Linked DNA regions of Homo sapiens. The protein of the gene in region 1 purifies or fractionates together with the protein of each later gene. This does not show direct contact. Each region holds a gene or a part of one and is shown on either strand. Other genes may lie near its edges.

What was found.
Region 2: the proteins of SLC25A35 (region 1) and PMVK purify together in Homo sapiens (affinity purification with mass spectrometry; 2 studies listed by BioGRID and IntAct, with this or other methods). This does not show direct contact.

Annotation. Positions count from the first base shown.
Region 1 is NC_000017.11:8,289,496-8,306,005, forward strand, and holds SLC25A35 (solute carrier family 25 member 35), read right to left. Parts: upstream 5,906-16,510; 5' UTR 5,313-5,905; coding exon 4,938-5,312; intron 3,094-4,937; coding exon 3,028-3,093; intron 2,861-3,027; coding exon of another isoform or gene 2,777-2,860; exon of another isoform or gene 2,683-2,776; intron 1,991-2,682; coding exon 1,838-1,990; intron 1,482-1,837; coding exon 1,347-1,481; intron 1,184-1,346; coding exon 1,010-1,183; 3' UTR 566-1,009; downstream 1-565. Other genes in the region: RANGRF (ran guanine nucleotide release factor), read left to right, coding at 8-93, 318-441. UniProt on the Homo sapiens protein: Putative antiporter that exchanges dicarboxylates and sulfur oxoanions across the inner membrane of mitochondria.
Region 2 is NC_000001.11:154,917,940-154,933,719, reverse strand, and holds the end of PMVK (phosphomevalonate kinase), read left to right. Parts: intron 1-1,304; coding exon 1,305-1,368; intron 1,369-4,543; coding exon 4,544-4,696; intron 4,697-7,236; coding exon 7,237-7,366; intron 7,367-8,454; coding exon 8,455-8,591; 3' UTR 8,592-8,980; downstream 8,981-15,780. UniProt on the Homo sapiens protein: Catalyzes the reversible ATP-dependent phosphorylation of mevalonate 5-phosphate to produce mevalonate diphosphate and ADP, a key step in the mevalonic acid mediated biosynthesis of isopentenyl diphosphate and other polyisoprenoid metabolites.

The DNA.
Region 1 (16,510 bases):
CCCTTAGGTAGCAAAGGACGTGACACTTCATCAGGCCTTGCTGAGGCTGCCCCAGTACCAGACTGATCTCTTGCTTACCTTCAATCAGCCCCCGTAAGGAGGAAGGAACGGGCGGGTATCTCATGACTGGGTTCCCAGGAGAATCGGGCTGGGAGGGACAGAACAGGGAGACTCACTGGTGGGATCCTCCAAGGAAGCAGGAGTGGGCCAGAGGTTTGGGGTAACTGATACCCAGGTCCTCTGGGGAACAGGAATTGGCAATTTCCAAACCTCAGGCCTGGATGATGTTCTGTCTCCATCTGTTCCCCCACCCCAAGCCCTGACAACAGGTCATCTCTTGGCCCCGAAAATCTGTCACCTGCACCCTGGAGCCTGGGTGACTTTGAACAGCTGGTGACCAGTCTGACCCTTCACGATCCTAACATCTTTGGTCCCCAGTAAAGGCGCTGAAGCACTGCATGATGTTGCTGAGAACTTGGGGACTCGGTTCTGTGAGGGGGAAAAGAGGTTGAAAAGAGGGTTTCCTCTTATTTCTTCCCTGTGCGTAAACATAAGACAATCCCTCTTCAGAATAAACTTGCTTTATAATCAATATAATCTCTGTGCCTTTGAATCTAACAGGACACCTGGGTCCCAGACGCCTGGGAATTGGGTCTCTCGATTCCCTTTGGTTTTGGAGGGAGGAGTTTAAAACTGTGCATGGGAGCAGGAGGGACTCAAGGGTGGCAGTGGTGAGTGGGAGGAAATACACTTTGGGATGACTCGTTCAGCCCTGAGAGAGGGGTGTGAGTTACCCAGGGAATGGGTAGGGAAGGTTTAAAGCAACACCCAAGGAAAGAAGGGAAACTCATCTCTTGTAGTGATTCAACCCTGAGAACAGATGGGGAGTGGGGTTGGCTGTCCCCCATGGATGGATGAAAGGTCACCTAATCAGTAGTCACCAGGACATAGTGGTGGAGGCACAAGTGGCCAAGGAGTGCTCATTTGGTGGAGACTGGGAAAGCGGCTGTTATTTAGTGTCTGTGTAGTAGAGGGAGCGCAGCTGGTCCCAGAAGAAGAGGGAGAGGATGGTGTGGGGGCCGAGGCGGAAGTAGGAGGCACCTATACCCTTGTACATGCCAAAAATGCCCTCGGTCCGAGCTGTCTGCAGCAGAGCGTCCAGTATCCCCCGGTACATGAGGCCCTGAGAGTGTGTCAGAGAGGGAGGGAGAGCACAGAGAAGGAGTTTGTCAGAGCCCACCAGGGGCAGCACCTCTACAGGCTGCATTTCAGGCTATCCCACCTGCACCCGCAATCTGCCTTCCCCATCCCCTGCTTCCCGCCTGCATCCCAGAGCACTTCCTTACCTTGCCCTGTGCATCTGTGGGCTGGTTGTAGAGCCTTGTGCAGGCCACATCAAAGGGTGCCATGGCCAAGACAACTGCAATGCCACTCATCATGGCAGCCACCAGCGCCAACTTCCAGCTCTGGGGAGGAAAGATCTAAGGGGGTAGAGAGGAAGAGCGTTGTCAACCAGCCAACTATTACACCCCAAGGACAGGACAGTCCCTGCCCTGGGGACACAGATGCTGGTAACTGGGGGAGCTTCCACTGCACCAGTTATAACAGTGCAAAAACAGTGAGAAGGAGGAAGGCCAGGGTACCCTGAAGGCTCAGGTACCCCTTCTGGGAGGAAGTGACAAGAGAACTGTGGGAAGGGTCTAAAGAGTTGACCTCCAAGCCCTCCTGCCACTCCCTCACCTGTGAATGTTGGGCACCATCCCCTCCAGGGCCTAGTGCAGCTTGCCCTCCCCTTCCCCCCTTCCCGAAACAGACCCACCCATTTCCCAGGCAGTACCTCCCACTGGCTCAGGAGGTCCTTGGTGGATGAGAAGGTGCACAGCTGGGTGGAGGAACCGACGATAACTCGGGGCAGGCCGCCCAGAGCCCCACGCCATAACCCCACCAGACCATGTTTCTGGCCAATCTCGGTTAGCGCCTGAAACATGCCCTAGTGTGGGGAAGACCGGGGGTGGGGTTCAGACAGCCCAGCATCAGGGGCTGCCATCCTAACACTGCCAAGGATGGGTCCTTAATAGGAATCTCTTGTCCAGACAACCAGTTCAATGTGGGCTTAGAGCCAGAATGTGGGCCCTTGGTTGTCTAGCCACCCCATTGTTCCTTCCCTGGGCACCCAAGAACTGGGGCGGGATGTATGCAAGTGAGGCCATTCACTGGTCAGGAGAAACAGGGGCAGAAAATTAGAGGAACTGGAGTACATATTGGAAAGAGGCATCAGGCACGGTGGCTCACGCCTGTAATCCTAGCACTTTGGGAGGCCCAGGCGGGTGGATCACCTGAGGTCAGGAGTTTGAGACCAGCTTGGCCAACATGGTGAAACCCCATCTCTATTAAAAATACAAAAATTGCCGGGTGCAGTGGCTCATGCCTGTAATCCCAGCACTTTGGGAGGCCGAGGCGGGCGGATCACAAGTTCAGGAGTTCGAGACCAGCCTGACCAACATGGTGAAACCCCATCTCTACTAAAATTACAAAAATTAGCTGGACGTGGTGGCGCATGGCTGTAATCCCAGCTACTCAAGAGGTTGCAGCAGGAGAATCACTTGAACCCGGGAGGTGGAGGTTGCAGTGAGCCAAGACTGCGCCACTGCACTCCAGCCTGGGCAACAGAGCAAGACTCTGTCTCAACAAAACAAAACAAAACAAAAAAAATTTAGCTGGGTGTGGTGGTGCACGCCTGTAGTCCCAAGCTACTCGGGAGGCTGAGGCAGGAGAATCACTTGAACCCGGGAAGCGGAGGTTGCAGTGAGCCGAGATCGTGCCAATGCACTTCAGCCTGGGCAACAGAGCGAGACTCCATCTAAAAAAAGAGTAAAGAGGGTCTGGGTAGACTCCAGGGGCAAAATGGGACAGAACCGATGGGTTGAGCAGAGCAGTGGCTGGGATTGGATCTGTTGGGTGCAGGCAGAAAGCTAGGGGAAAAGAGAAAGGATGGTCAGGGACTTTGGCAGACTTGGGAACCCTCACCTGATGCTTATACTGGTGCCCTACAGCAATTTCTGAGGCTGCCTGTGCCTGCAGGTGTGTCTTCACCTGGGAACAAGAGAATATCATAGCCTGTGCCCCAGTGGCCATCCTCCTACCTGAGAACCAAATGTCTCACCCCCTCACACTTCCTCTAGGGTGTTCAGCAATGAATAGCCTCTTACTCTGATTATTGTTCTTCCTACTTAACAAACTGGTTAACAAAAAGACTCTGTCTCTAGGCTCCAGCCCCAGGGGGGTGGATCTCCCAGCACTGCAAGACACCCCAACCCCTTCATATCCTCTTTCCCTTGGGGCTAGCAGTCGGGGGTGGAGTGGTTGGAGAATGGCAATATTTCCTAAGGCTGTTCATGTTAGGCAAGACCTGGTGTCCCGCCTCTCATGCTAGCTCCCATTCCCAGACTGGATCTCCAGCCACCACTTCTATCAGGCTCCCCATCAGACTCTGGGCAAAACTTGCTCTCTAGCCCCCAACCCCCACAGAGGTATCGAGCTGACTTTGGGGAGACCACTGTCCCTGAAACTCACACCTTGAAATGAGACCAGACTGCCTCTGCTACAGGACATACTACTTCCCCGTCTCTTTTGCTCTTGGGAGCACTAAGCAGGGCCTAGTCCTAGCAATAAACAGCTGTGTGACCTTGAGTGGGTCACTTCCCCTTTCTGGGCCTCAGGCTCTTGACCCTTCACCTATACCAGATAACTCAAAGGGGCAGATGTTGAGATTGTTAATTCTGTGATGCCCAGGGCCTTCCTGATCCCTAGACTCTCTGACGTATGTTAAATTCCTTATCCTCCCCTTCACAAATCCAACCTCAATATCAACACATAATAATAAAAACAAATGCTACCAAATGCTTACTGTCTGCCAGGATTCGCACTAATGCTTTCATGTCTACCGCATTTGTCTCCCTCGATCCTCCCAATAATCACACAGAAAGGGCACTATAATTATCACCATTTTACAGATGTGGCAACTGAAGCTCAACAACTAGTAATTTTCTTTCTTTTCTTTTTTTTTTTTTTTTTGAGACGGAGTCTCTCTCTCTGGCCCAGGCTGGAGTGCAGTGGCCGGATCTCAGCTCACTGCAAGCTCCGCCTCCTGGGTTTAGGCCATTCTCCTGCCTCAGCCTCCGGAGTAGCTGGGACTACAGGCGCCCACCACCACGCCCGGCTAATTTTTTGTATTTTTAGTAGAGACGGGGTTTCACCGTGTTAGCCAGGATGGTCTCCATCTCCTGACCTCGTGATCCGCCCGCCTCGGCCTCCCAAAGTGCTGGGATTACTGGCGTGAGCCACCGCGCCCGGCCAACAACTAGTAATTTTCAAAGCCAGGATTTTAGTTCCAGAAAGTCTGATTCCAAAGCCCATAATCTTTTTTTTTTTTTTTTGTGAGACGTAGCCTTGCTCTGTGGCCCAGGCTGGAGTGCAGTGACCGGATCTCGGCTCACTGCAAGCTCCGCCTCCCGGGTTCATGCCATTCTCCTGCCTCAGCCTCCCGAGTAGCTGGGACTACAGGCGCCCACCACCGCACCCGGCTAATTTTTTGTATTTTTAGTAGAGACGGGGTTTCACTGTGTTAGCCAGGATGGTCTCCATCTCCTGACCTCGTGATCCGCCCGCCTTGGCCTCCCAAAGTGCTGGGATTACAGGTGTGAACCACTGCACCCGGCCCCAAAGCCCATAATCTTAATCAATACATTCAATCGTGTCCATCAGATGGGTGTGTATAGGGCAGATCAGAAGACTCCGAAGCCTACCAGCACTTTCCTGATGCCTTTCCCTGCTTGCAGTGGGGCAGCACTCTGCCACCTATGCCCTTGGGAAAGAACAGCTCCTATCCTACAACGAGGATCTGCCCTGAAGGTCCCAGGCAAGAGCCCTCTTCTTACCATGTAGATGGGGCTCCCCAAGTAGGCTCCCATGACCCCAGCCATGGCCCCAGCTGCTGCGCTGCGGGCAGGACTGTGGGTGCCTTCGGCTGTGTGCAGGTAGCCCCCAGCCTCAGCCAGCCCATAGGTGCCCAGTCGGATGCCATTCATCAGGAACTGGTACAAGAGGGCGGGGGCCAGGCCTTTCTGCAGGGCAGCAAGGCCATCCACCTTGCCGATGGTGATGAAGGCATGGAAGACATTTCGGTAGTGCCGCTGGTATGTGCCAGGGGCCTGCAGTTCTCCTTGCAACTGCATCCTGGTCTTCACCACCTCCAGGGGATTGGTGAATACACAGGCCCCGCAGGCTGCCAGGCCACTCATCAAGAAGTCCATGGTGGGATAGCTGTAGCAGGAACTGACCCAAGAGTAAGAAAGTAAAAATGGGTGTCAGAAAGCGGGGTTGGAAGACAGGGGGAAGGCCTGTTTCAGCAGTACAGGTTGCAGAAGATAAGAATTTAGATTTGCAGTCAAGGGTGTCAGGGTCAAATGTCAAGTGGTCAAACGTCAGCTGGAATTTGGGAGTCAAGAGCTGGCAAGCAGGGAAGAGATAGAAATCTAGGAGATTCTGGTGAGAAGCTTAAGGCAGGACCCTCTGAGGTCAAGGAGGGGCAAAAGACAGAAGGTTGCAGGTGGGATGGCTCAGGATGGCGGGCGACGGGAGCACGGGAGTAGAGGAGGGAATCGCGGGGTTGGGAGATGGAAGCCAGGGAGGCAGGAAGAAGAAAGCCAGCAAGTGAGAGAAGAAAAGGATCCGGGAGAAGAGCCGGTGATTTCCTCGAGCCAGCAACGAGATCTCGATCCGAGAAAGAAGTCAGGACTCTGGCCAGGAATGAGCGTCCCTGAGCGTCCCCAGGCAGCCACCGGAGCTCGCAGTAGCTTCAACCCCGGGTAGCCTGCGGAGGCCGGGCCGCCACACTCCTGCCACTGGAGCGCGGGGCCAATGGGGAGCCTTCAAGAGCCACAACCGAGGCCCTCAGCCAATCAGCGCCGAGCCGGCTCCGCGGCCAAAGGGAGGAGCTCTCGGCGCTCCTGTCCCCGGAATCACCCGGAGGCGGTTGGAATTAACTGTCCAGGCTCCGCCACCAGCGCTCGGCCGCCGACTCCGGCTCCGGAAGGGAGGCCCGGGACGCGGCGGTTTTGTTATTGGCAGGGAAGAGACCTGGGTTCCCGATCGAACACAGAGGCCGAGCGCAGCAGTCCCCCACTGGGGTGCTGGGACCGCCCCTCGGGTGGGCGGACGGCTTTAGCTTCCTACCCCGGGTTGTGACCGGGTGGGGTCACATAAGTTCAGGTCCACGCCCTGCTCGGTGCCGGCGCCAGGAGAGCCAGGAAGACGCGGCCCGGCTTGCGGGGGGTAGAGGGACACACTTGCGCTGCGGGACCAGTCTCCTGAGGCTGCACGGGTTGGTGCTTGGTTAATTAAATCCTTAGTCCTTAGGCTCTTTATTTTTATTTTTTATTTTTTTTGAGACGGAGTCTCGCTCTGTCGCCCAGGCTGGAGTGCAGTGGCGCGATCTTAGCTCACTGAGAGCTCCGCCTCCCGGGTTCACGCCATTCTCCTGCCTCAGCCTCCCAAGTAGCTGGGACTACAGGTGCCCGCCACCACGCCCGGCTTATTTTTTGTATTTTTAATAGAGACCACCGTGTTAGCCAGGATGGTCTCGATCTCCTGACCTCGTGATCCACCCGCCTCAGCCTCCCAAAGTGCTGGGATTACAGGCGTGAGCCACCATCCCTGGCCTGGAGTTCTTTCATATGAGATATTTGTCTCTACTCCTCCATTATTTATTCAACCATTTATTTAATCAGTATGGACTCATGGACATTTATACTTTGGGTTATAATCCAATATACTTCATATTTATTTTCTAGCTAATTTCGTTCTAGCTTTGGCCTTTGAGAGCTGTTTCCGTTGGCTCCTGTGTCTCTTTAGCATACCCCCATCCATTTTTTTTTGCACACAAAAGTTTTTAGTTTATAAATCTTGTGAAAAATCCACAGTGGCCACAGATGTTACTGTAGCATCTTTACTCCTTTGGCTTTTTGCCACACCAACACTGTCCTTTGCAGTCCCCCTTTCTTCATTCTGGTCTTGTGTTCCTTTCATTGCTTTCTTGAGTTCTTTTCTTCTCATCCAGGCCATGTCTTGGAAGTCAGCATTTGGGTTTATTTTTCTTTGCATAATCCAGTGAATCATAAATCATGCCAAAGCCAGTTGTCTTGCCACCACCAAAATGAGTTCTGAATCCAAATACAAAGATGAGGCCAGGCGTGGTGGCTCACGCCTGTAATCCCAGCACTTTGGGAGGCAGAGGCAGGCAGATCACATGAGGTCAGGAGTTTGAGACCAGCCTGGCCAACATTGTGAAACCCTGTCTCTGCTAAAACTACAAAAATTAGCCGGGTGTGGTGGCAGGCACCTGTAATCCCAGCTACTCGGGAGGCTGAGGCAGGAGAATCACTTGAACCCAGGAGGCAGAGGTTGCAGTGAGCCGAGATTGCGCCACTACACTCCAGCCTGGGTGACAGACGGAGACTCCATCTCATAAAGACAAACAAAAACAAACAAAGATGATGACATCTAGTGTAGTCTCATACATTTTGGCTAGTTTTTCCTGAATTTCTGTCTTAGGTACTGTTGTCTTCCCAGGGTGAAGGACCTCAATAACCATTTGTTCCTCCTGAAGTATGTAGTCAGTTGATCATGAACTTCCTAGTTCAGATAGTTACTAAGTCATTCATGATGGCGGTCAATCCTCAACCAGGGAGAAAAATAAGAGTCCCATCAGTGTTGTTGTCATCATTGGTATTTTAATTAAAACCTTGTTTTTATTTAGTGTCACCTTACTTTCTGGTACTATAAAATGCTCCAGGCTCATTTTGTGTATTTCCTGCCACAGTCCTGCAATCAGCCATTTCTCCAAGGACCCCTATTTTCTTTTATTGGCAAATGGTTTTAGAATCCAAGATCTGGGCCCTAGGTGTGCTTGTTGCTTTTGAGGTATCATTGCTTCTGGACCCTCACATCTGAGAAAGCAAGGAAATATATGTGTGTATACTAACCCACGTATATACACAAACATGTATTTCCATATATAACCATCCATATCTATATTAAGCTAAGCATGAATTCATACTGATGTCTCCAACTTTAATCCATTACTACATGGATCATTCTAGCCACCTCCCTTGTTTATCTAAACTCCCACCCCAACTGTGAGAAACCTGGCTTCCATAATTTGCCATCTATTTACTTAATTGTTTATTCCAGGACACGTGTATAGGAGTATCAGAATTGTTTTGTTTTTCTTTTTAAATTCTTTATTATTATTATTATTATTATTATTTGAGACGGAGTTTTGTTCTTGTTGCCCATGCTAGAGTGCAATGTTGCAATCTCAGTTCACTGCAACCTTCACCTCTCAGGTTCAAGCGATTCTCCTGCCTCAGCCTCCTGAGTAGCTGGAATTACAAGCACGAACCACCACACCTGGCTAATTTGTTTTTGTATTTTTAGTAGAAACAGGGTTTCACCATGTTAGCCAGGCTGGTCTCGAACTCCTGACCTCAGGTGATCCTCCCGCCTTGGCCTCCCAAAGTGCTGGTATTACAGGCATGAGCCACTGCACCCGGCCTAAACTTTTTCTTCTTTCTTTCTTTTTTTTTTTGAGATGGAGTTTTGCTGTTGTCGCCCAGGCTGGAGCACAATGGCATGATCTTGGCATACTGCAACCTCTGCCTCCCGGGTTCAAGCGATTCTCCTGCTTCAGCCTCCCAAGTAGCTGAGATTACAGGCATGCGCCACCACGCCTGGCTAATTTTGTATTTTTAGTAGAAACAGGGTTTCTCCATGTTGGTCAGGCTGGTTTGCGAACTCCCGACCTCAGGTGATCCACCTGCCTCGGCCTCCCAAAGTGCTAGGATTACAGGGGTGAGCCACCACACCCAGCCTAAAATTTTTCTTTATATGTGCCAGGCACAGTAGCTCATGCCTGTAATCCCAGCAGTTCGGGAGGCTGAGGCAGGTGGATCACCTGAGGTCAGGAGTTCAAGACGATCCTGGGCAGCATGGCAAAACCCCGTCTCTACTAAAAATACAGAAATTAGCTGGGCGTGGTGGCACGCACCTGTAGTCCCAGCTACTTGGGAGGCTGAGGCACGAGAATTACTTGAACCTGGGAGGCGGAGGTTGCTGTGAGCCAAGATCGCGTCGTTGCACTCCAGCCTAGGTTACAGAGCAAGATTCCGTTTCAATAAAATAAAATAAAATATTTCTTTATTTGTAATCATAATGTCTCAAAAGAGAATTGTTAACACATACCCCTGTGGAGAACAATCTTATAAACTAGGGTACAGTGCTTATGTGTAGTTCCATTTGCCTTTGATCTTACAGACTCGACTCATTTCCAAAATTACTCAGGTCAGCACCTTTCCCCCAGCTCCCTTCAGAAAAGTTATTTCATACATTAGTAGTATCATTAAATTCTTTTGCCACAATCTGCCTTCCATATTGGGTTCCCTGACCTCCTAATTTTTTTTTTAATTAAAAATATCAGGAGTCAAAAAAAATAAAATAAAAAAAATATCAGGAGTCTGGGCGTGGTGGCTCACACCTGTAATCCCAGCACTTTGGGAGGCCAAGGCAGGCAGATCACCTGAGGTTGGGGGTGTGAAACCAGCCTGACCAACATGGGGAAACTTCTTCTCTACTAAAAAAAATACAAAATTAGCTGGGGGTGGTGGCGCATGCCTGTAATCCCAGCTACTCGGGAGGCTGAGGCAGGAGAATCACTTGAACCCCGGAAGTGGAGGTTGCAGTGAGCAGGAGATTGCGCCATTGCACTCCAGCCTGGGCAACAAGAGTTAAACTCTGTCTCAAAATTACATCTATCTATCTATCTATCTATCTATCTATCTATCTATCTATCTATCTATATATATATATATCAGGGCTGGGCATGGTGGCTCAGGCCTGTAATCCCAGCACTTTGGGAGGCTGAGGTCAGCGGATCATGAGGTCGAGAGATCGAGACCATCCTGCCCAACATGGTGAACCCTCATCTCTACTAAAAAAAAAAAATACAAAAATTGGCCGGGTGTGGTGGCTCATGCCTGTAATCTCAGCACTTTGGGAGGCCGAGGAGGGCGGATCACCAGGTCATGAGGTCGAGACCATCCTGGCTAACACAATGAAACCCCATCTCTACTAAAAATACAAAAAATTAGCCAGGCGTGGTGGCAGGTGCCTGTAGTCCCAGCTACTAGGGAGGCTGAGGCAGGAAAATGGCATGAACCCAGGAGGCGGAGCTTGCAGTGAGCCGAGATCGCGTCACTGCACTCCAGCCTGGGCGACAGAGTGAGACTCTGTCTCAAAAAAAAAAAAAAAAATTGAGGCCGGATGCAGTGGCTCATGCTTGTAATCCCAGCACTTTGGGAGGCCGAGGTGGGTGGATCACCTAAGGCCAGGAGTTCGAGACCAGCCTGGTCAACCTGGTGAAACCCCATTTCTACTAAAAATACAAAAATTAGCTGGGTGTGGTGGCGGGCACCTGTAATCCCAGCTACTCGGGAGGCTGAAGCAGGAGAATCACTTCAACCCAGGAGGCGGAGTTTGCAGCGAGCCGAGATCGCACCACTGCACTCCAGCTGGGCAACAGAGCTAGACTCCGTCTCAAAAAACAACAACAACAACAACAACAAAACAAACAAACAAAAAAAACCCAAAAATGTATAATTAGGCCCAAGGTCACCTAGATTTTCTTTTATGTTTTCTTCTAGAAGCTTTATAGTTTTACTTTTTACATTTAGGTCTATGATCCATTTTGAGTTAATTTTTGTAAATTATGTGAGGTCTGGGTTTGGTTTCTTCTCATCCTCCTCTCTCTTTTCTTCTTTCTTCTTTCCTCCTCCTCCTCCTTCGTCGTCTTCTTCCTCTTCCTCCTCTTCTTCTCCTTCTTCTTCTTTTTCTCCTTCTTCTTTCTTCTTCTTCCTTTGGTCCTTTGTAAAAAATCTGTTTTCTATATTTGTGTGGCTCGATTTCTGTGCCCTCACTTCTGTTCCCTTGATCTGTGTGTCTAGCCTTTGACCAATATCATGCTGTCTTGATTTATTGTAGGCTGTTACCATTTTTTCCTGGATGTGAATGTCATGAATCAGATTTGAGAGGAGTTGCATAGGGAACGTAAAAGTCCCCAGGTGTCTGAAAGAAGGGGTGGTAACATAGAGAGGGAGCGAGAAAGACGGGGAGGCTTGGAGGGCAGGGGGCTGTGTCTTTCTTGCCTCTTCCTTGGTAGCCTAGACACTGATGGGTTCCTTTTGGCTGCTGAGCGCGCACCCGAAGTGCTCAAACTCCACCTAGTGGTGGTGAGGAAGGATCGTCTCTGTGTATCCTCACCTGGGCCAAAACCTGTATAAATTCCCAGAGCAGGCCAGCTTTTCCTTACTGCTTCTTCCTGATTTATCCCCCATCACAGGCAGGCTACCTACATTAACAGCTTTGCAGACAGAAATGAGGCCCAGGTGTTCTGTGCTCCATGAAAGAGTCTACTGGACTTCCAAGTCCTGGCCCTACCGGAGGGAGCTGGACTCAACACTTCTTTTATTAGAAGCTCCCTTTATAAGGGATTGTTTTGTTGTAAGTGACAGAAATCCAACTCAAACTAGCTTACAAAAAGGGAACTCATTGACTCACACAACTGAAAGCTCCAGACACACACATGACTTCAGGCCAGCAGAATCAGGCACTCAAATCTGTCTCTCTCCACCTCTGCCATGTATCGGTTTTATTCTCAGGCCACCTCACTGATGGCCACTAGCAGCTGCAGGCCCATATTCCACCAGCTTAGCATCCTCAGTGGAAATGTAACTGCCCAGTGGGCTCTTCCTGTCCTCTGCACAAATAAAGACCACGGCATTGCAGTAAAGAAAGAGTTTAATTGACACGAGGCCGGCCATGCCACATGCAAAATTGATTATTACTCAAGTCAATCTCCCTGAAAATTCAGAGATCAGGGTTTTTGATAATTTGGTGGGTAGGGGGTCAGAAAGTGGGGAGTGCTAATTGGTTAGGTGGGAGACGAAATCACAGGGAGTTGAAACTCTCCTCTTTCACTGGGTCGGTTCCTGGGTGGGGGCCACAAGAACAGATGAACCAGTTTATTGATCCGGGTGTTGCCAGATGATGCTTTGAGTGCAGGGTCTGCAAAATATCACAAGCACTCATCTTAGGTTTTACAAGAATGATGTTATCCCCAGGAGCAATTTGGGGAGGTTCAGAATCTTGCAGCCTCCAGCTGCATGACTCCTAAACCAAATCTTATTTATTTATTTTTTTTTTGAGACGGAGTATCGCTTTGTCACCCAGGCTGGAGTGTAATGGCATGGTCTCTGATCACTGCAACCTCTGTCTCCTGGGTTCAAGCGATTCTCCTGTCTCAGCCTCCCGAGTAGCTGGGACTACAGGCGTGCGCCACCACACCCGGCTAATATTTTGTATTTTTAGTAGAGACAGGGTTTCACCATGTTGGCCAGGCTGGCCTTGAACTCCTGACCTCGTGATCTGCCAACCTCGGCCTCCCAAAGTGCTGGGATTACAGGCATAAGCCACTGTGCCCAGCCGAAACGGGAGTTTTATTACATTATTACTCAAATCAGTCTCCCCAAGCAGAATCAGTTTTTTGTTTGTTTGTTTGTTTGTTTGTTTGTTTTTGAGACGGAGTCTCGCTCTGTCGCCCAGGCTGGAGTGCAATGGCGCCATCTTGGCTCACTGCAAGCTCCGCCTCCCGGGTTCACGCCATTCTCCTGCCTCAGCCTCCCCAGTAGCTGGGCCTACAGGCCCCCGCCACCACGCCCGGCTAATTTTTTGTACTTTTAGTAGAGACGGGGTTTCACCGTGTTAGCCAGGATGGTCTCGATCTCCTGACGTCGTGATCTGCCCGCCTCAGCCTCCCAAAGTGCTGGGATTAGAGGCTTGAGCCACCGCACCCGGCTACCAGAATCAGAGTTTTTAAAGATCATTTGGCGGGTAGGGACTTGGGAAGTGGGGAGTGCTGATTGGTCAGGTTGGAGATGGAATTGCAGGGGGTCGAAGTGAGGTTTTCTTGCTGTCTTCTGTTCCTGGGTGTGATGACAGAACAGGTGGTGCCAGATTAAGGTCTGGGTGGTATCAGCTGATTCATAGAGCCAGCGGCTGCATGACCCCCAAACTAATTTATAATCTTGTAGCTAATCTGTCAATTTGTTAGTCCTGCAAAGGCAGACTGGTCCCCAGGCAAGAAGGGGGTCTTTTCAGTTAAGGACTATTAACAATTTTGTTTCAGAGTCAAACCATGAACTGAATTCCTTCCCAAAGTTAGTTCAGCCTACGCTGAGGAATGAACAAGGACAGCTTAAAGATTAGAAGCAACATGGAACTGGTGAGGTCTGATTTCTTTCACTGTCATAATTTCCTCAGTTATAACTTTACAAAGGCGATTTTAAGACCCTGTCTCAAAAACAAACAAACAAACAAACAAAAACTATCGTGATCCACTCCCCCTACTCTGCTCTGAAACCTTCAGGGCCTGTCTGCCCGGTGTGATTGCTCACGATATGGCCTCCATGTGTCCCTCTTTTCATTTCAGATCAGTTTGTTTCCCTTTCACGGTTCTCCAGACGTGCCTACTTTCCTCTTCGCTGTGCCTGCGCTTCCCTGGATTCCCACAATGCTCCTTCATGCCCTGCCTCTTGGCTTGGCTAAACCCCTCTGCCTGATTTTAAATGAACAGTCAAAGTGCCTCTTCTCCCTGACACCCACTTTTTCCAACCAACAGGTCAATGACATGAGGAAGACCGAAGGAGGCTGCTGGGTGTGGACACAAAGAGATGGAGCAGACGCTTATGGGCTCCTTCATCCTTCCAGAACAGACTCTCCAAGCAAAGTCTAAACCAGTCACATTGAAGCTCCTAGGGTTACTTCATTAATAATATTTCAGGCCGGGCGTGGTGGCTCACGCCTGTAATCCCAGCACTTTGGGAGCCTGAGGCGGGAGGATCACAAGATTAGGAGTTCAAGACCAGCCTGGCCAATATGGTGAAATCCCGTCTCTACAAAAAGTTAGCCAGGCGTGGTGGCGGGCGCCTGTAGTCCCAGCTACTCGGGAGGCTGAGGCAGGAGAATGGCTTGAGCCCAGGAGGCGGAGGTTGCAGTGAGCCGAGATTGCACCACTACACTCCAGCCTGGGCAACAGAGCAAGACTCTGTCTCAAATAATAATAATAATAATAATACTTCAAAAAGACTTCAAATTGAAGTCTTTTTTTTTTTTTTTTTTTTGAGACGGATTCTCGCTCCGTCGCCCAGGCTGGAGTACAATCGTGTGATCTTGGCTCACTGCAACCTCCGCCTCCTGGGTTCAAGCCATTCTCTGGCCTCAGCCTCCTGAGTAGCTGGTATTACAGGCTTGTGCCAACATGCCTGGCTAATTTTTGTATTTTTAGTAGAGACGGGGTTTCATCTTGTTGTCCAGGCTGGTCATGAACTCCTGACCTTAAGTGATCTGCCTGCCTCAGCCTCCCAAAGTGCTGGGATTACAGGTGTGAGCCACCACGCCCGGCTGCACTAATTATTTGTAATGGTAAAGAGTGTAAGCTTCCCTAGGAGGACTGTCTCCCAGTTCTGCACTAGGGGATAAATTGTAATGGTCAAGGTTCTTTCAGCAGTAAGTGACAGAAAACCAGCTAAAACCAGCTCAAGCGCAAAAGGGAATGTCATGCCTCTGGAAGCTGGGAGGTCCAAGGGACTCAAATATCATTGTAATCCCCAGCTTTTTTTTTTGCTCTGTCACCCAGGCTGGAGTGCAGGGGCGTGGTCTTGGTTCACTGCAGCCTCGAACTCCTGGGCTCAAGTGATCCTCCTGCCTCAGCCTCTGGAGTAGTTGAGACTACAGGCATGCGCCACCGCCAGGCTTCCTCCCTCTCTTGGCTCTGCTTCCCTCAGGTATGGGGCTCATTTTCTCCCACTGTTGACTGGCTTCCTCCTTTTCCAGGGGAAGGAAGTAGGCCAAGGTATAGACAGCTCCTGACTTAGATTGTTCCTGCCTTGTGAGCTTGGAGGAAAGAGAAAGCTTCTCTTTCTCAGAGGCCCAGAAGCTTCTCTTTCTCCTGGAGTCTGTCCTGACCTGCTCATTCCTGGACCAGTCTCTGTGGCCAGAGGAATACGGCACTGTGATTGAACAAACCTGAGTCACGTGGCCAGAGGGAGGCTGTTGTGATTGGCTGTCCCACTGGAACCACATGGAGTCGGGTGGGTGATGGAGAGTTTCGTAGGAGATGGACACTGCTGTTACCAGGAAGATGAAATCTATTTGATGCAACATTATATTCCAGGAAACGTTATAGCTGCAAAGACCACGTAGCGACATGAAAATTGGTTATAAAGCAATGCTAAGAGAACAAGGCAGAAGACAGACTTGAAACTATGATGGCACATTTGGAATATGAAAAAATAGAAAACTTTTGCTCTGTAAGGGTGGTAGAAGAATGAATTATTACGTCAAAAACCTTCAGTGTCTTTGCAAAAGTATTTTATAATAAATAACGTGTGCATGCACAAATAGTCTCATGTTTACTGCATAATATGATTTTCGGAGCTCAGTTTCTTTTTGTAATGAGATAAGACACAAATAAAATAGATGGTGATATTGACAAAAAGAGTCAAACTCTGTAAAATATTTGAAGAGATTTATTCTGAGCCAAATATGAGTGACCATGGCCTGTGACTCAGCCCTCAGGAGATCCTGAGAACATGTGCCCAATGTAGTTGGGGTGCAGCTTGCTTTTATACATTTTAGGGAGACATGAGACTTCTATCAAATACTTTTTTTTTTTTGAGACCAAGTCTCACTCTGTCACCCAGGCTGGAGTGCAGTGGCACAATCTCGGCTCACTGCAACGTCTGCCTCCCAGGTTCAAACGATTCTCCTGCCTCAGCCTCCCAAGTACAATAGCTGGGATTACAGGCGCTCGCCACCACGCCTGGCTTATTTTTGTATTTTTAGTAGAGATGGGGTTTCACCATGTTGGCCAGGCTGGTCTCGAACTCCTGGCCTCAGCTGATCGGCCCGCCTCGGCCTCCCAAAGAGTTGGGATTACAAGCTTGAGCCACCGCGCCTGGCCTCAATCAAATACATTCAAATACATTTAAGAAATACAGGCCAGGCGCGGTGGCTCACGCCTGTAATCCCAGCACTTTGGGAGGCTGAGGTGGGCGGATCATCTGAGGTCAGAAGTTCGAGACCAGCCTGGCCAACATGGTGAAACTCCATCTCTACTAAAAATAATAGCAAAAATTAGCCGGACACAGTGGCACACGCCGGTAATCCCAGCTACTCGGGAGGCTAAGGCAGGAGAATTGCTTGAACCCGGGAGGTGGAGGTTGTAGTGAATCAAGATCATGCCACTGCACTCCAGCCTGGGCAACAGAAAGAGTATCAAAAAATAAAAAAATAAAAGGCTGGGCACGGTGGCTCATGTCTGTAATCCCAGTACTTTGGG
Region 2 (15,780 bases), on another chromosome or scaffold:
GAGTTTGAGACCAGCCTGGCCAACATGGCAAAACCCCGTCTGTACTAAAAATACAAAAATTAGCCGGGTGTAGTGGCGGGCGCCTGTAATCCCAGCTACTTGGGAGGCCGAGGCAGGAGAATCGCTCAAACCTGGGAGGCGGAGATTGCAGTGAGCCGAGATCGCGCCATTGCACTCCAGCCTGGGTGGTGGAGCAAGACTCCGTCTCAAAAAAAAAAAAAAAAAAAAAGGTTGGTTAAGTAAATTAAATAACGAATGAGTTATTTTTATTTTTATTTTCATTTTTGAGATGGATTTTCACTCTTGTTGCCCAGGCTGGAGTGCAATGGGGCGATCTCGGCTCACTGCAACTTCCACCTCCTGGGTTCAGGTGATTCTCCTGCCTCAGCCTCCCGAGTAGCTGGGATTACAGGCATGCGCCATCATGTCCGGCTAATTTTATGCTTTTAGTAGAGACAGGGTTTCACCGTGTTGGTCAGGCTGGTCTCAAACTCCTGACCTCAGGTGATCTGCTGCCTCAGCCTTCCAAAGTACTGGGATTACAGGCGTGAGCCACCACACCTGGCTTTTGTTTCAGTTTTTTAAATTTGCTTTTCTTATTTCATTTTTATGAGACAGGGTCTCACTCTGTCTCCCAGGCTGGCATACAGTGGTACAATCATGGCTCACTGTAGCCTGGAACTCCTGGGCTCAGGAATGCTCCCACCTCAGCCTCTGGAGTAGCTGGGAGTACAGGCACATGCTGCCATGCTCAGCTAATTTTTAAATTTTTTGGTGGAGATGGTATCTCTGGGTCTTATTGTGTTGCCCAGGCTGGTCTTGAACTCCTGGCCTCAAGCACTCCTCCTGCCTTGGCCTCCCAAAGTATTGGGATTACAGGTGTGAGCCACCATGCCCAACCAGTGAATTAATAAATGATATATGTTATGGTGACCAAGTCAGTGGAGACAGATACCTCTGGCTATGAGAGAATTAGTTTAGGGTCTGGGCAATAACCTAATCCAGCTAGAATATTGTGCGCCTGTTCACACTGTAATTAGCACTTTATAGGTTTTACCTGTTAGTTTCAGGGCTCTTTTATATTCTTTAGAGTTTCATAATAATCCTGTGTGGGAGACAGAACAGAAAGTGTTATCCCCATTTTCTGATGAGGAAACAGGATCAGGGACATTGAGACCTACCAAAGTTACATAATACCAGTAGTAGAAATGGGACTTCAACACAGGCCTCTTGACTCCCTTTCTGGGACATGGAAGCTCCTGGAAATTCTAGGCTAACTGGATTCTGATCTCCCTGTCCTGCAGACTTGGAGCTGATGTCTGTGCTGTCCTCCGGCTCTCTGGTCCACTCAAGGAACAGTATGCTCAGGTAGGTGGTGCTTTGTGGCATCCGGTGTGTTGGGCGGGGCCGGCTCCAGGACTTTGGAGCTGTGGCTGCTGCCTGAGTCACTGGCATGATTCCCGTCACCACTGCTGGCAGGGTGGTGGCCAGCTCTTGGTTTTCTGTGAGTGGACCTTTCGGGGGCATTTTCAGCTTATATTTCTTTCCTAATAGCCTCCCTCCCTTCAGAGTGAGTTCAGGAAGGTGTGCCCAGGAAAGGCTGTCGACACTCGAGTTGGCAGCTCTGATGCTGTGTGATTAGTAAGGACCTGCCTGTGCCTCCTCACACCACCCTCTCACTCAGCTGGCCTGACACAGCCCCTAGAACTTTGCTCCTAGAAATTTAGTACAGGCCGAGCACGGTGGCACATGCCTGTAATCCCAGCACTTTGGGAGGCCGAGGCAGGTAGATTGCTTGAGTCCAGGAGTTAGAGACCAGCCTGGCCAACATGGTGAAACCCCATCTCCGTTTCTTTAAAAAAAATTTTTTTTAAAGTAAACAACAACACACAAAAAAGAAATTTAGTCCCAGAAGTTGTCAAAATATATCATTAAGTGAAAAAAAAAAAAAGCCAATACCAAGATATAGAACAGTGTGTAGAGAATGCTACATTTGTCTAAAACTGAAGAGGCACTTTGTGACCAAGAATTGTAAAAGAATTCTAAATATATCTGCTCATATATTTGGCTATTTAACAAATATTTACAGGGTGCCTGTCTCATGTTCAGCACTGTTTCAGGTGCCTGGGATGTGTTCCTGCACTGCATGGGAAAGACAGGTTAGAAACCGTACCATTGGTTGCCCCCAGGGAGGGGACAGGGTGAGAGAGAGATTTTCGACTGTAAATTAATGTGTATCTTTGAATTTTGAACCACATGGATTAAAAAAAATAGAATCGTTAAAATAGAATAAAAAAAATAAGTCAACAGGAACTCTCAGAATCTTAGACTTCAGAAAGGGAACTTGGAAGGCAAGATCAGCCTCCCACATGGTGAAGAGCCCTCTTGTCGCCACATTTTGCCCTTGACCTCTAGGTGCACCCTTCTGGGACGTGTGCTTTGGCCCCTCAATTGGCCAGAGTGTGGTTTCCGGAACCACATAAAATGAATTGTCCCCCCTTCTATATGCCATCTTTGCCTCCATGGGAAGCATTGGGTCATCTCTCACCAGCTGAACAGACCTATTCATAGGGTGGCAGCCTGAGGAATTGTAAGAATAACTAAATTAAGTGGTTTATTTTTTTTTCTTTTTGAGACAAGGTCTTGCTCTGTAGCGCAGGCTGGAGTGCAGTGGCGCATAATGGCTCACTGCAGCCTTGACCTCCTGGGCTCAAGTGATCCTCCCACTTGAGCTTCCCAAGTAGCTAGGAATACAGGTGCATGCCACTATGCCTGGCTAAGTTTAAAATTTTTTTTTGTAGAGATGGGAGTCTCATTATGTTGCCCAGGCTGGTCTCCAACTCCTGGGCTCAAGTGATCCTCCCACTATGGCCTCCCAAAGTGCTAGGATTTGGGCAGGAGCTACTTTACCTGGCCTGGTTTTCAAAAATTTTAAGCAGGATTCTTTCCCAAATGAAACTGGATACAGAATTTCTTTGTATCCAGGAGACAGACTGGGAGCGATGCTGCAGGGTGGTGGGGTGGTGGTGGGGGGATGGGAGGAAGGAAGGGGTGAAGGGGAAGGCACTGAGCCTTCCCTAGTGGGGCCTAGGCACTTCCAAAGGCCTCCCAGGAGCACTTTCAAAACTGATCTTCCAAAGTTCCCAGACAGGTCTTGCTTCTGTCCTACTGAGTGAGACTGGTGGGGTTGGGTGGGGGGCGGGAGGAAGAAGGAGCAGGAGTTTGCATTTTTATTTATTTATTTATTTTATTTATATTTGAGACGGAGTCTCGCTCTGTCGCCCAGCCTAGAGTGCAGTGGCACGATCTTGGCTCACTGCAACCTCCACCTCCTGGGGTTCAAGCAGTTCTACTGCCTTAGCCTCCTGAGTAGCTGGGATTGCAGCCATGGGTGACCACGCCCGGGTAATTGTTTTGTATTTTTAGTAGAGACATGGTTTCACCATATTGGTCAGGCTGGTCTTGAACTCCTGACCTTGTGATCTGCCCGCCTCGGCCTCCCAAAGTGCTGGGATTACAGGCGTGAGCCACTGTGCCTGGCCAGTTTGCATTTTTAAAAGCTCCATGGAAGACTCTGATAGGCCAGACTGCCCTTGCTCTGTGCAAGTCCAGCACCACTCTATCCCCCACTCCCATTAAAAAACAAAACCAAAATGAAATGTTCATGCATTGATTTCCTAAGTCACAAGAAGAAATATAACCAACAAGTAGACCACAACGCTCCTGGAGGGAAACTGGTTCAGGAGCAGGAGGTGGCTACTGACCTCCTCTTGCAGCAAGGGGAGCAGGTGGGTGATCAAGAAATTGAGAGCCTGAGGGGAGAAGGTCTTGTTGCAGTGAGTTCATGGAGGAGCCAGAATCTGAACGAGGTGATGCTTTTCAGACCCCTCCTATCCTGGATCCCTTTGGATGGACCCCTCTGCTTGGAAAGGGGAGAAAGGAGTTCCCCAGGGTGGTCAGAGTAACCTCTCCTGCCTTGGGGGTCCTCTGGGTGTGGGAGGCCTTGCAAGTGCCCAGAGCCAGATGGAGTGATGCTGTTTCAGCAAAGGCGCCAGGAATTTGGGGATGGGAAGGGGTAAGGGGGAGAGAAAGGAGACACAATCTCCGTGGGATTTGGGATGGGGGCAAACAATGCTAGTGGGAGGACATGGAGTGCAGGATTTTTTTTCCCCCCTCAGATTTCCCACTTTAGTTGAAGGCTAAGCCTTTGCCCAGGGGATGCAAACTAATTTCAGTATTAGTTTAAGCCAGAAATAATTGGGAAGGTAAAACTTGCAAAAGAGAAACCACGCCACATATTTCAAAGACAAATTGAAACAATTTCTGGATTATCCCCAGACCTTTCTTCTGTCTACCAGTGATCGGGATTTCTTAGTTGCTGAGACTCTTGCCCTTGCAGACCTTTGTCCTGGCTGAAACCTCATTAATCCTTGCATCAGCCCTGGGGGAGGCAGGTGAGGGTGAGGGATGGCTCTTCCGCTGTTTTAGGAGAGACCACTGAGGTTGAAAGGCCGGTGACGTAGACATAATGTCCTTTGGGCAGGAGCATGGCTTGAACTTCCAGAGACTCCTGGACACCAGCACCTACAAGGAGGCCTTTCGGAAGGACATGATCCGCTGGGGAGAGGAGAAACGCCAGGCTGACCCAGGCTTCTTTTGCAGGAAGATTGTGGAGGGCATCTCCCAGCCCATCTGGGTAAGAGGGCTCCATGGCAGCATGAAGAACACCTGTTTCCCTAGCTCTTCGCTGTGTCCATCTCTCTCTGTCTCCACTGCCACCATCCTGGCCCAAGCCCCCACCATTTCTGGCCTGGACAGTCGCAGTAGCCTCCACACTGGTCTCTAGCTGTGGCTCTTGCCCTCTGTGGTCTATTCATTACACAGTAGCCAGACTGACCTTTTATTATTTATTTATTTATTTATTTATTTATTTATTTATTTATTTTTGAGATGGAGTCTCACACTTGTCGCCTGGGCTGGAGTGCAGTGGCGCAATCTTGGCTCACTGCAACCTCTGCCTCCTGGGTTTAAGTGATTCTTCTGCCTCAGCCTCCCAAGCAGCTGGGACTACAGGTGTCCACCACCACGCCTGGCTAATTTTTGTATTTTTAGTAGAGACGGGTTTTCACCATGTTGGCCAGGCTGGTCTCGAACTCCTGACCTCAGGTGATCCACCCACCTTGGCCTCCCAAAATAGTGGGATTACAGGTGTGAGCCACTGCATGCGGCCCAGACTGACCTTTTAAAAACGTGAACCAGGTGATGTCACTCTTCTGTTTAGAATACTTTGGTGGCTTCCCATTGTGCTCATGAACAAAATGAAAATCCTTCACATGAACTTCTGGGCCTTGTGTGATCCAGTTTCTGCTACTTTTTTAGCCTCCTTACTCCTTAAGCTGTAGCAACACTGGCCTTCTTGGTCCTCAAGTCAGTCGAACTCCTTCTGGAATCAGGGCCTTTGCACATGCCCTTCCACCTGTCTGGACTGCCCTTTCTTTCTCTTTCCCTGGTTAGCTTCAGCTCAGTTGACATGACACCTCCACAGGGAAGCCTTCCCTAATATTCAGGTCTTAACTGGTGCTCCCTGGCAGGTGCTCCTATAGCACCCTACCCCTTTTTTTCCTCATTCATTCTGGCAGTGAATATTGAGTGTCTACTTCTGCCAGGTGTGGTTGCATGTTGTGGGGATATATTGGTGCAAAAGCGCAATGAAATCTCTTCCTTCAGGGAGCTTACATTACAGCTGAGGGTGGCGGGGAGATAGGCACAGAATAAATACAGAATATATCAGGCAGTGGTAAATACTAAGGAGTAAAATAAAGTAGGCCTAGGATATGAGGAGAGATAGGGAAGCGTTGCTGTTTTATTAAGGGTGCCTGGGAAGGCTACACTGATATGATGATGTTTGAGCAAGACCTGAAGGAAATAAGGGATAACTGAATGGATATTTGGGGAAGTAGCTTTCCAGAGAGAGGGAGGAGGAAGTGCAGAGGCTTGAGTGGTGAGTGTGCCTGGTGTGTCTGAGGACAAGCCAGGTGGCCAGAGTGGTGGAAGGTCAGGTCAGACTTCCCAGGGCGGACCTTTGGGAGAGCTGGGATTTTATTCTGAGTGAGATGGGGAGTCACTACAGCGTTCTAAGCAGAGGAGAGACATGATCTGATTTCAGATTGAGAAGCCTGGCCATAGCTGCTGTGGGGAAGATGGGAGCAGAAGCACAGGGGCCGGGTGGAGGACTTTCCTGTGTTTTTTTTTTTTTTTTTTTTTTTTTTTTGAGACAGAGTCTCACTCTTGTCACCAAGGCTGGAGTGCGGTGGCGCGATCTCAGCTCACTCTACCCTCTGCCTTGTGGGTTTAAGCGATTCTTGTGCATCAGCCTCCCGAGTAGCTGGGATTACAGGCATGTGCCATCATGCCCAACTAATTTTTTTTGTATTTTTAGTCGAGACGGTGTTTTACCATTTGGCAAAATTTGAACTCCTGACCTCAAGTGAACCACCCACCTCGGCCTCCCAAAATGCTGGGATTACAGGCATGAGCCACCATGCCTGGCCAGGACCTTTCTGTAACAGACAAAATGACTATGGTTGGGGCGCAGAGGGGAGCAAACGTAGAGTGGAGAGAAGGGGTCAATTTTGCGTGTATTTTGAAGAGAAAACCAACAGGATTTGCCCTTGGGTTGGCTGTGGGGTGTGAGAGACTATACCAAGGATTTTGTTCTGAGCAGGTGGACAAATATAGAATTATCATTTTCTAAGACAGGGAAGGTGGGGAGGAACAGGATTGGAGAGGAAATCAGGAGTTGAGTTTCAGCCGTGTTGAGGTTGAGACACTTGTTGACATACACTGTAATCACATGGTTATTTGATTACTGAATACTTGTTCAGTGTCTCCCACTAGACTGTAAGCTCTGAGAGGGCAGGCACAGGGTCTGTTTTGCTTACCAGTCTAGCCTTAGCACCTAGCACAGTGACCAGCGTACAGTAGGTACTTACTATAATACTTGTTTAATTGGATTAATGAACTTGTCAGCAGCACTGCCTGACATGTAGTCAGCACTCAGTGGTGTATGTTCAATGAATGAATGAATCCGTGAATAGTGAGTCTAGCTGCTGACATGCTCACGATGATGGGGGGGTAGAGCCACACCCCACACTGCCCTGGGTTCTGTAGTCCTCCCACCTCCCCTCACTTCTATCATCCTGTCCTGTTGGTCACCTGTCTGTCCCTCTCCTGCAGCTGGTGAGTGACACACGGAGAGTGTCTGACATCCAGTGGTTTCGGGAGGCCTATGGGGCCGTGACGCAGACGGTCCGCGTTGTAGCGTTGGAGCAGAGCCGACAGCAGCGGGGCTGGGTGTTCACGCCAGGTGAGCCACTCTATGTGTAGGGCACAGGAGGACACAGGCTACCCACCCTGTGGTTTGTCTACCGGGCAGGCCTGGGGGAAGTGAATAAGGGATGATAAAGGAGAATCTGAGGCCTCCTGATTAGGGAGTAGCATGGTGGACAGAATCCTGAGGGTCAAGGTTCCCTTGGCTTAACCTAGGCTATCTTCTCATGGCCAGTGGGCTGCTTTGGTGGTCTGGCTGGGACCCACCCCCATGATTCTTCACCTTTGCTTTCCAGCCCAGTAGGGGCTGACAGTGGTCAGGGGCAAACCTGACAAAGCTCACTTCTGTTTAACACAGTAGTGGAGTTAGAAGTTAGTAGTGGAGAGGAAGTTCTGCTGGGAGCTTCAGTGGTGCAAGCCCAGGACCCGCTCTGTGGGCTTCAGAAGCACAGCTCAGGCTTCCTTCCTGCCCTAGATCACTGTGACTTAGAGCAGCAGTTCAGATCCAATGGGTATGACCACTACTAATGCTGCTCATTTCTGGGGCACTCACATGTCCAGGCCTGTGCTAAGCATTTTATATGCACTGTCTCACTTTACCATCAAAACAGATTCAGCAGGTAGATGCTGTTATTAGTTTACCCATGGTTGGATGAGGCCCTGGCCTGAAAGGTTAAGTCTCTTTCCCAGGGTCACAAAGAGTGAGAGGAGGAGCTGGCCTCCTGACCCTCTGCTTCTGACTCCAGCACATGCTGCCTCCTGAGGGGATTGAGTCAGACAGATTTAGGGATAGAAAAGGACACAACCAGCTTGACAGAAAATGAAAACACAGTGCCCTTTTGGGTTGTGTGTGGTTTTAGATGACCCGATTCACCCTCTGTAGGCAGTAGCAAGTGAAGGATTAAGTCAGGAGGGATCAGCTGAGAGGCCCAGGTGGCTATGGGCTACTGAACCTGCCATCACAGTGTTTCAGGGGTAGGGAGGTGCCTTCTGGGTGGGTAGCCCTTGGCTCTAGGGTAGCAGAGGAGAGGCCGGGAGGGCCCACTCCAGTTGGGGTTAGCAGGCCTTGATGCCTGCTGTCTGTCTGGAGGGCTGAGGCCTGACCTCACCATGCTTCCTTCATAGGGGTGGACGATGCTGAGTCAGAATGTGGCCTGGACAACTTCGGGGACTTTGACTGGGTCATCGAGAACCATGGAGTTGAACAGCGCCTGGAGGAGCAGTTGGAGAACCTGATAGAATTTATCCGCTCCAGACTTTAGTCACTAGGTTCTAGGAGTGAGCTGGGGCCTGCTGAGGTGGGGGTGGGGCTGACTCTGCAAAATGGGGGTGTCCCCCGATCCTGGCCGAGGTGAGGAACAGACAGGGGGGGTCTAGATTCTGAGGGGGTTGGTGGATATTGGGCAAGGCAGGAAACCTCTGGAGACCTCATTTTCTCCATGGGGAAGACAGCCATGCTCTTCAGGAGGAGACTCCAAGGGCAAAGGAGGGTGTCTTGGCTGTGCTTGAAGGCGAAACCCTGCCATATCCCCAGTGCCAGTCCCCTCAGCCTGTGGTGGCCTTGCATCCTGACTGGATGTTCTCAGCCCCTTGTTCTGGGCAAGAACCCAGAGCTCCCCAGTGTGGATACTAATAAACCTCTTGGAGCACACTCTCAGAGCTGCTTGTCTCTCATTTCCTTGATGCCAAGCTGGCCTGGGTGGGGTTTAGAAGGCGTTAGGGTGTCATGGTGGCTGGAGGGTCCCTGTTCCACCTCCCACCTGGCTAGAATGTATTCTTCAGAGGTTGACCTATGCTGCACCCCACAGGCAACTGGCCTGTTTATGTTGGAGGTGGGATTGGGTTGAGGCCCTTACCCTCTGGTATAGCGCCATGAAAGGCTGTGATCCATAGAAAGTGCCACCAGCAAGTGCCCCCTCCCCCCGCTTTTTTTTTTTCTTTGAGACAGGGTCTTATTCTGTCACCCAGGCTGGCATGCAGTGGTGTGATCATAGCTCATTGCAGCCTGACCTCCTGGGCTCAAGCAATCCTGCCTCAGCCTGCCAAGTAGCTGGGTCTACAGGCACACACCACTATATTTGGCTAATTTTTTTCATTTTTAGTAGAGACAGGGTTTCGCTATGTTGCCCAGGCTGGTCTTGAACTCCTGAACTTAAGCAATGCTCCCACCTTGGCCTCCTAAAGTGTTGGGATTACAAGTGCGAGCCATTACCATGCCTGGCCCTGCCCTTGTAATTTATATAGCCTTTTATAATTTCCAAATTTCTTCTAGATTCTTCACAGCTACCCCCTGAAATGGGCGAGGATAGGATTTTCATCGCATTTAGCAGATGCCAAGAACTCAAAGAAGTGAAACAACTTCTCCAGGGTTAGAGGGCTTAGTAAGTGTCAGTGCTGTGTGGAACCCAGGCCACTTGACTCCTGACCAGGCCCCTTCTGCACATTCCTATGGTTGTGGTACAAAGTCCCAAGGCTCCTTGCTGTCCCCAGGCCAAGCCTAAGCCCTCCAACTCTGGCCCTGGCTTCGTAATCCTCCCACAAATTCTGTTCTCACAGATAAGGGGACAGCCAAAGAAATTACACTTTCAGTGTGACCCAGACTGAATCTTGTTTCTGCCCAGATCTCCTCTGCTCTGCTGCCATCATCCTTGCTGGGTGCCAGGCACTGGGCACATAAAGATGAACAGGTCACAGGACTGTTCCTTAAGGAACTCTTGACCTCAGTGAGAAATAGACACCCTCCAGGTGCCCAGGAACCTGAAGGCAGTGCCAAAGACAACTTCAGTTCTCTGGGAAGGAGGGTGGGCTTCCATGACACCCAGGCCTGCCGTGCCTGGGTGAGCACTGACCCCTTGTCCCAGGGGCACTGCCATTGCTGCTTGGAAATCCCTCTCTGGAGCTGGGAGCAAATGATTGTGAACAATCCCAGTCATGGAAATGTCCAAAAGTCACTGGGGCCAACTCTGATGAATGTGGGAGGCAAAGTTTTTGGGTTACAAACCTTAACGAGTCATAAGGTTTGTAAAGAAGTCGATTAGGGGCTGGGGTGGGGTGGCTCATGCCTATAATCCCAGCACTTTGGGAGGCAGAGGAGGGTGGATCATTTGAGGTCAGGAGTTCAAGACCAACCTGGCCAACATGGCAAAACCCCATCTACCAAAAATACAAAAATTAGCTGGGCATGGTGGCAGGTGCCTGTAATCCCAGCTACTCAGGAGGCTGAGGCAGGAGAATTGCTTGAACCTGGGAGGCAGAGATCTTGCCACTGCACTCCAGCCTGGGCGACAGAGCGAGACTATCTCTGAGAAAAAAAGAAGGGCAGGAAGGACACAATCAAACCAGGGAGAACATAGAGTCCACGGGGCCAGCTAAGAGGCTTCTGCAAGATTCCAAGCAAGAAGTAGCACAGGCTGAAGGAGAGAGGGTCACTGGAAAGCAGATGGGTTGGTGGTGGCATTCAACTTTGTTTCTGACCCAGCCCACCTGATACCGGGCATATTCCCATCAGTGAAACTGGCTCACTGCCTGAAGGGGAGCAGAGGTTCCGGGCACAGGAGCCCTGTCAGAACCTCCGGGTTGGAGGTGAGGAAACACCTACTGCATGACATCATTACCTGCTTGATTCCAGCATGTCTTCTGTAGTCCTGTCTCACCATGCATTCAATCACATCCACTTCCTGAGCACCTGCTGTGGCTCTAGGAGCTAGGGACACAGCTACAAGAGAGACATGGGCCCTGCCATCACGGAATTTACCTTTCAGAAATAATCCTAGACAGGGTAGGTTCCACAGAACTTGGGGACCGATTAGCCACAGCAGCTGGGGAGATGGAGGAGTTCAAACTTGTGCCAGAAACCCTGGGTTTTATCGCCTTCCCTGAAGGGGGTGTCTTCAGCATGTGGGAATGTGGTAGTACCTTCTCAGTTTGGAAGCCAGTGAATCCCTGCCTTCGTAGGCAATGAGGGTCAAAGCTCCAGATGGATGTGAACCTATCAAGTGTGGTACTAGAGTAAGAGTTGATGCAGACAGGGGGGTAGGGACTGGTGGGTCTCCTGTGCCCTCCGGGAGGGGTGCTGCCCTGCTTTCTTGGCTCTGGGTATTTAGAGGAGACACAGGATTATGACTTGGGAGCCAGTGGGTCTGTCTACCTGGTGACAGGTTGGTAGTGATGCCTTTTAAAATAGGAAGCCCAGTGTCTGCCGGATTCGAAGTTCATAATATTTTTTTTTTTTTTTGAGATGGAGTCTCGCTCTGTCACCCAGGCTGGAGTGCAGTGGCACAATCTCAGCTCACTGCAACCTCCACCTCCCAGGTTCAATGCTTCAGCCTCCCGAGTAGCTGGGATTACAGGCTCCCGCCACCACGTCCAGCTAAGTTTTGTATTTTTGGTAGAGACGAGGTTTCACCATGTTGGCCAGGCTGTTCTCAAACTTCTGACCTCAGGTGATCCACCTGTCTCGGCCTCCCAAAGTGCTGGGATTACAGGCGTGAGCCACTGCGCCCAGCCTCATAATTTTTTTTTTTAAGCAAGGTCTTGCGCTGTCATCTGGGCTGGAGTGCAGTGGTGCAATTACAGCTCACTGCAGTCTCAACCTCCTGACCCCAGGTGATCTTCCTATCTCAGCTTCTTGAGTAGCTGGGACCACAGGTGTGTACCACCATGCCAAGCTAATTAAAAAAATTTTTTTTTTAGTGATGGGGTCTCGCTGTGTTGCCCAGGCTGGTTTTGAAGTCTTGGGCCCAAGTGATCCTCCTGCCTTGGCCTCTCAAAGTGCTAGGATTACAGGCATGAGCCACTGCGCCCAGCTCATAATTTTTTTTAACTGATATTTCCCTAAATATAAAAACCAAGAATAACCCTCACTTTTGACACTATATGTTATGATGAGAGCCTTAGCTGCTTTTTATTTCAAGACATTCTCCCCACTTCACTGCTACAGGTTGACCATCCCGAGTCCAAAAATCTGAAACCTGAGGTACTCCGAAGTCCAAAACTTTTTGAGGGCTGATATGACGCCCAAAGGAAATGATGAGTGGAGCATTTTGTATTTTGTGTTTTTGGATCTGGGATGCTTAACTGGTAAGTATAATGCAAATATTTTAAAATAAAGATCAGAAATTCAAAACACTTCTGGTCCCCAGCATTTTGGATAAGGGATACTCAACCTATAGTCTTTGCTCACTTTGTCTGTGGTTATAATCTCAGAGTATAAAGCTACTTATTTATTTTTTTCTTTAAGACAGGGTCTCCCTCTGTCACCCAGGCTGGAATGCAGTGGCATGATTATAGCACACTGCAGCCTCAAACTCCTGGACTCAAGTGATCCTCCCACCTCAGCCTCTGGAGTAGCTAGGACTAAGGTACGCGCCACCATGCTTGGCTAATTTTAAATTTTTTTTGTAGAGATGGGGGTCTCACTATGTTGCCAGGGCTGGTCTTGAACTTCTAGCTTCAAACGAAGCTTCCACTTTGGCCTCCCAAAGTGCTGGGATTACAGGCATGGGCCACCATGCCTGGCCAAGTTATTTTTAATATTATGTGTCTGTTATTTTACTACTTCTTCTTTTTTTATTTATTACCCACCCATGAATGTATGTATATGTTATTTTAGTCATGATTTGTAACACTAACAGCCTCTTTAAAAATTTATTATTATATTTCTAAACAACTTTATTGAGCTATAATTAAAATATAATAACTACATATATTTAAAATGTACAATTTAGGTGGGGTACGGTGGCTCACACTTGTAATCCCAGCACTTTGGGAGGCTGAGGCGGGTGGATCACTTGAGGTCAGGAGTTCGAGACCAGCCTGGCTAACACGGTGAAACCCCGTCTCTACTAGAATACAAAAATTAGCTGGGCATGGTGGTACATGCCTGTAATCCCAGCTACTTGGGTGGCTGAGGCAGGAGAATCACTTGAGTCAGGAGGTAGAGGTTGCAGTGAGCCAAGATGGCGCCACTGCACTCTAGCCTGGGCAACAGAATAAGACTCCATCTCAAAAAAAAAAAGTACAGTTTACTGAGTTTTGACATATGTATACATCTGTGAAACCACAGTACAATCACTATGGACATATTCATCACTCTCAAACATTTCCTCATGTCCCCTTGTAATTCCTCCTCTCGCCTCTCCCTGATTCCCCACCCTCACCCCCAAGCAACCACTGGTCTGCTTTCTGTCTCTATGGATGTTTATATTTTCAAGGATTTTGTATAAAGAATAATAAAATTTGGCGAGATGCAGTGGCTTACGCCTGTAATCCCAGCACTTTGAGAGCTCAAGGGAGGGCAGATCACCTGAGGTCGGGAGTTCAAGACTAGCCTGGCTAACATGGTGAAACTCCATCTCTACTAAAAATTAGCCAGGTGTGGTGGCGAATGCCTGTAGTCCCAGCTACGTGGGAGGCTGAGGCAGGAGAATCTCTTGAACCAGGGAGGCGGAGGTTGCAGTGGGCTGAGATCGTGCCACTGCACTCCAGCCTGGGTGACAGAGCCAGACTCCATCTCAAAAAAAAAAAAAGATTAATAAAGTTTTATACAAAGAACAGTATATATTCTTTATTGTCTTGTTTCTTTTCATTGAGCATAATTATTTTGAGGTTCATCCACATTATTGGTGGTATCAGTAGTTCATTCCTTTTTTTTTATTGGTATGTGGTATGAATATACCACAGTTGTTTACCAGTTCACCTGTTGATGAACATTTAGGTTGTTCCTAGTGTTTGGATATGACAAATAAAGCAACTATATACATTGATGTACAACATGTATAAGTCTTTGTGTGGACATGTGCTTTCATTTCTCTCAGGTAAATATCTTTTCAACTTTTTTTTTTAAGACGGAGTTTCGCTGTTGTTGCCCAGGCTGGAGTGCAATGGCACAATCTCGGCTCACCGCAACCTCTGCCTCCCGGGTTCACACGATTCTCCTGCCTCAGTCTCCTGAGTAGCTTGGATTACAGGCATGTGCCACCAAGCCCAGCTAATTTTGTATTTTTAGTAGAGACAGGGTTTCTCCATGTTGGTCAGGCTGGTCTCAAACTCCCAACCTCAGGTGATCCACCCGCCTCAGCCTCCCAAAGTGCTGGGATTACAGGCGTGAGCCACCACACCCGGCCGACTTTTGTTTTTGAGACAGAGTCTTGCTCTGTCGCCCAGACTGGAATGCAGTGACAGGATCTCAGCTCACTGCAACCTCCACCTCCTGGGCTCAAGCGATTCTTCTGCCTCAGCCTCCTGAGTAGCTGGGACTACAGGTGCCTGCCACCATGCCCAGCTACTTTTTGTGTTTTTTCATAGAGACTGGGTTTTGCCATGTTGCCCAGGGTGATCTCGAACTCCTGGGCTCAAGCAATCTGCCTGCCTTAGCCTCCTAAAGTGCTGGGACCACAGGCATGAGCCACCGGGCGTGGCTTAACTTTATTTTTGGAGACTGTGTCTCATTCTGTTGCTTGGGATGGAGTGCAGTGGCATGATCACGGCTCACTGCAGCCTCGACCCCCCTGGGCTCAAGTGATCCTCCCATCTCAGTCTCCCGAGTAGCTGGTACTACAGGCATAAACCACCATGCCTGGCTAAATTTTTTTGTATTTTGTAGACAAGGTGTCTCCATGTTGCTCAGGCTGGTCTCAAACTCTTGGGCTCAAGCATTCCTGAGCCCAGGAGTTTGGCAGGCTGAGGCCTGCCTCATCCTCCCAAAGTGCTGGGATTATAGGCATGAGCCACTATGCCCAGCCACCTTTTTAACATTTTTTTTTTTTGAGACAGAGTTTTGGTCTGGTTGCCGAGGCAGGAGTGTGATGGCGTGATCTTGGCTCACTGCAGTCTGTACCTCCCGGGTTCAAACGATTCTCCTGCCTCAGCCTCCCGAGTAGCTGGGATTATAGGCATGCACCACCATGCCAGGCTAATTTTTGTATTTTTAGTAGAGATGGGGTTTTGCCATGTTGTCAGGCTGATCTCGAACTCCTGGCCTCAGGTGATCTGCCCACCTCGGCCTCCCAAAGTGCTGGGATTACAGGCGTGAGCCACCATGCCTGGTCTTAACTTTTTTTTTTGAGACGGAGTTTTGCTCTTGTTGCCCAGGCTGGAGTCAATGGTGCAACCTCAGCTCACTGCAACATCTGCCTCCTGGGTTCAAGTGATTCTCCTGCCTCAGCCTCCTAAGTAGCTGGGATTACAGGCACCTGCTACCATGCCTGGCTAATTTTGTATTTTTAGTAGAGACAGGGTTTCACCATGTTGGTCAAGCTGGTCTCAAACTCCTGACCTCAGGTGATCCATCTGCCTTGGCCTCCCAAAGTGTTGCGATTACAGGCATGAGCCACTGCACCCGGCCTACCTTTTTAACTTCTTCTTTTTTTTTTCTTTGAGTCTGTGTTTCACGCTTGTTGCCCAGGCAGAAGTGCAATGGCACGATCTCAGCTCACTGCAACATCCGCCTCC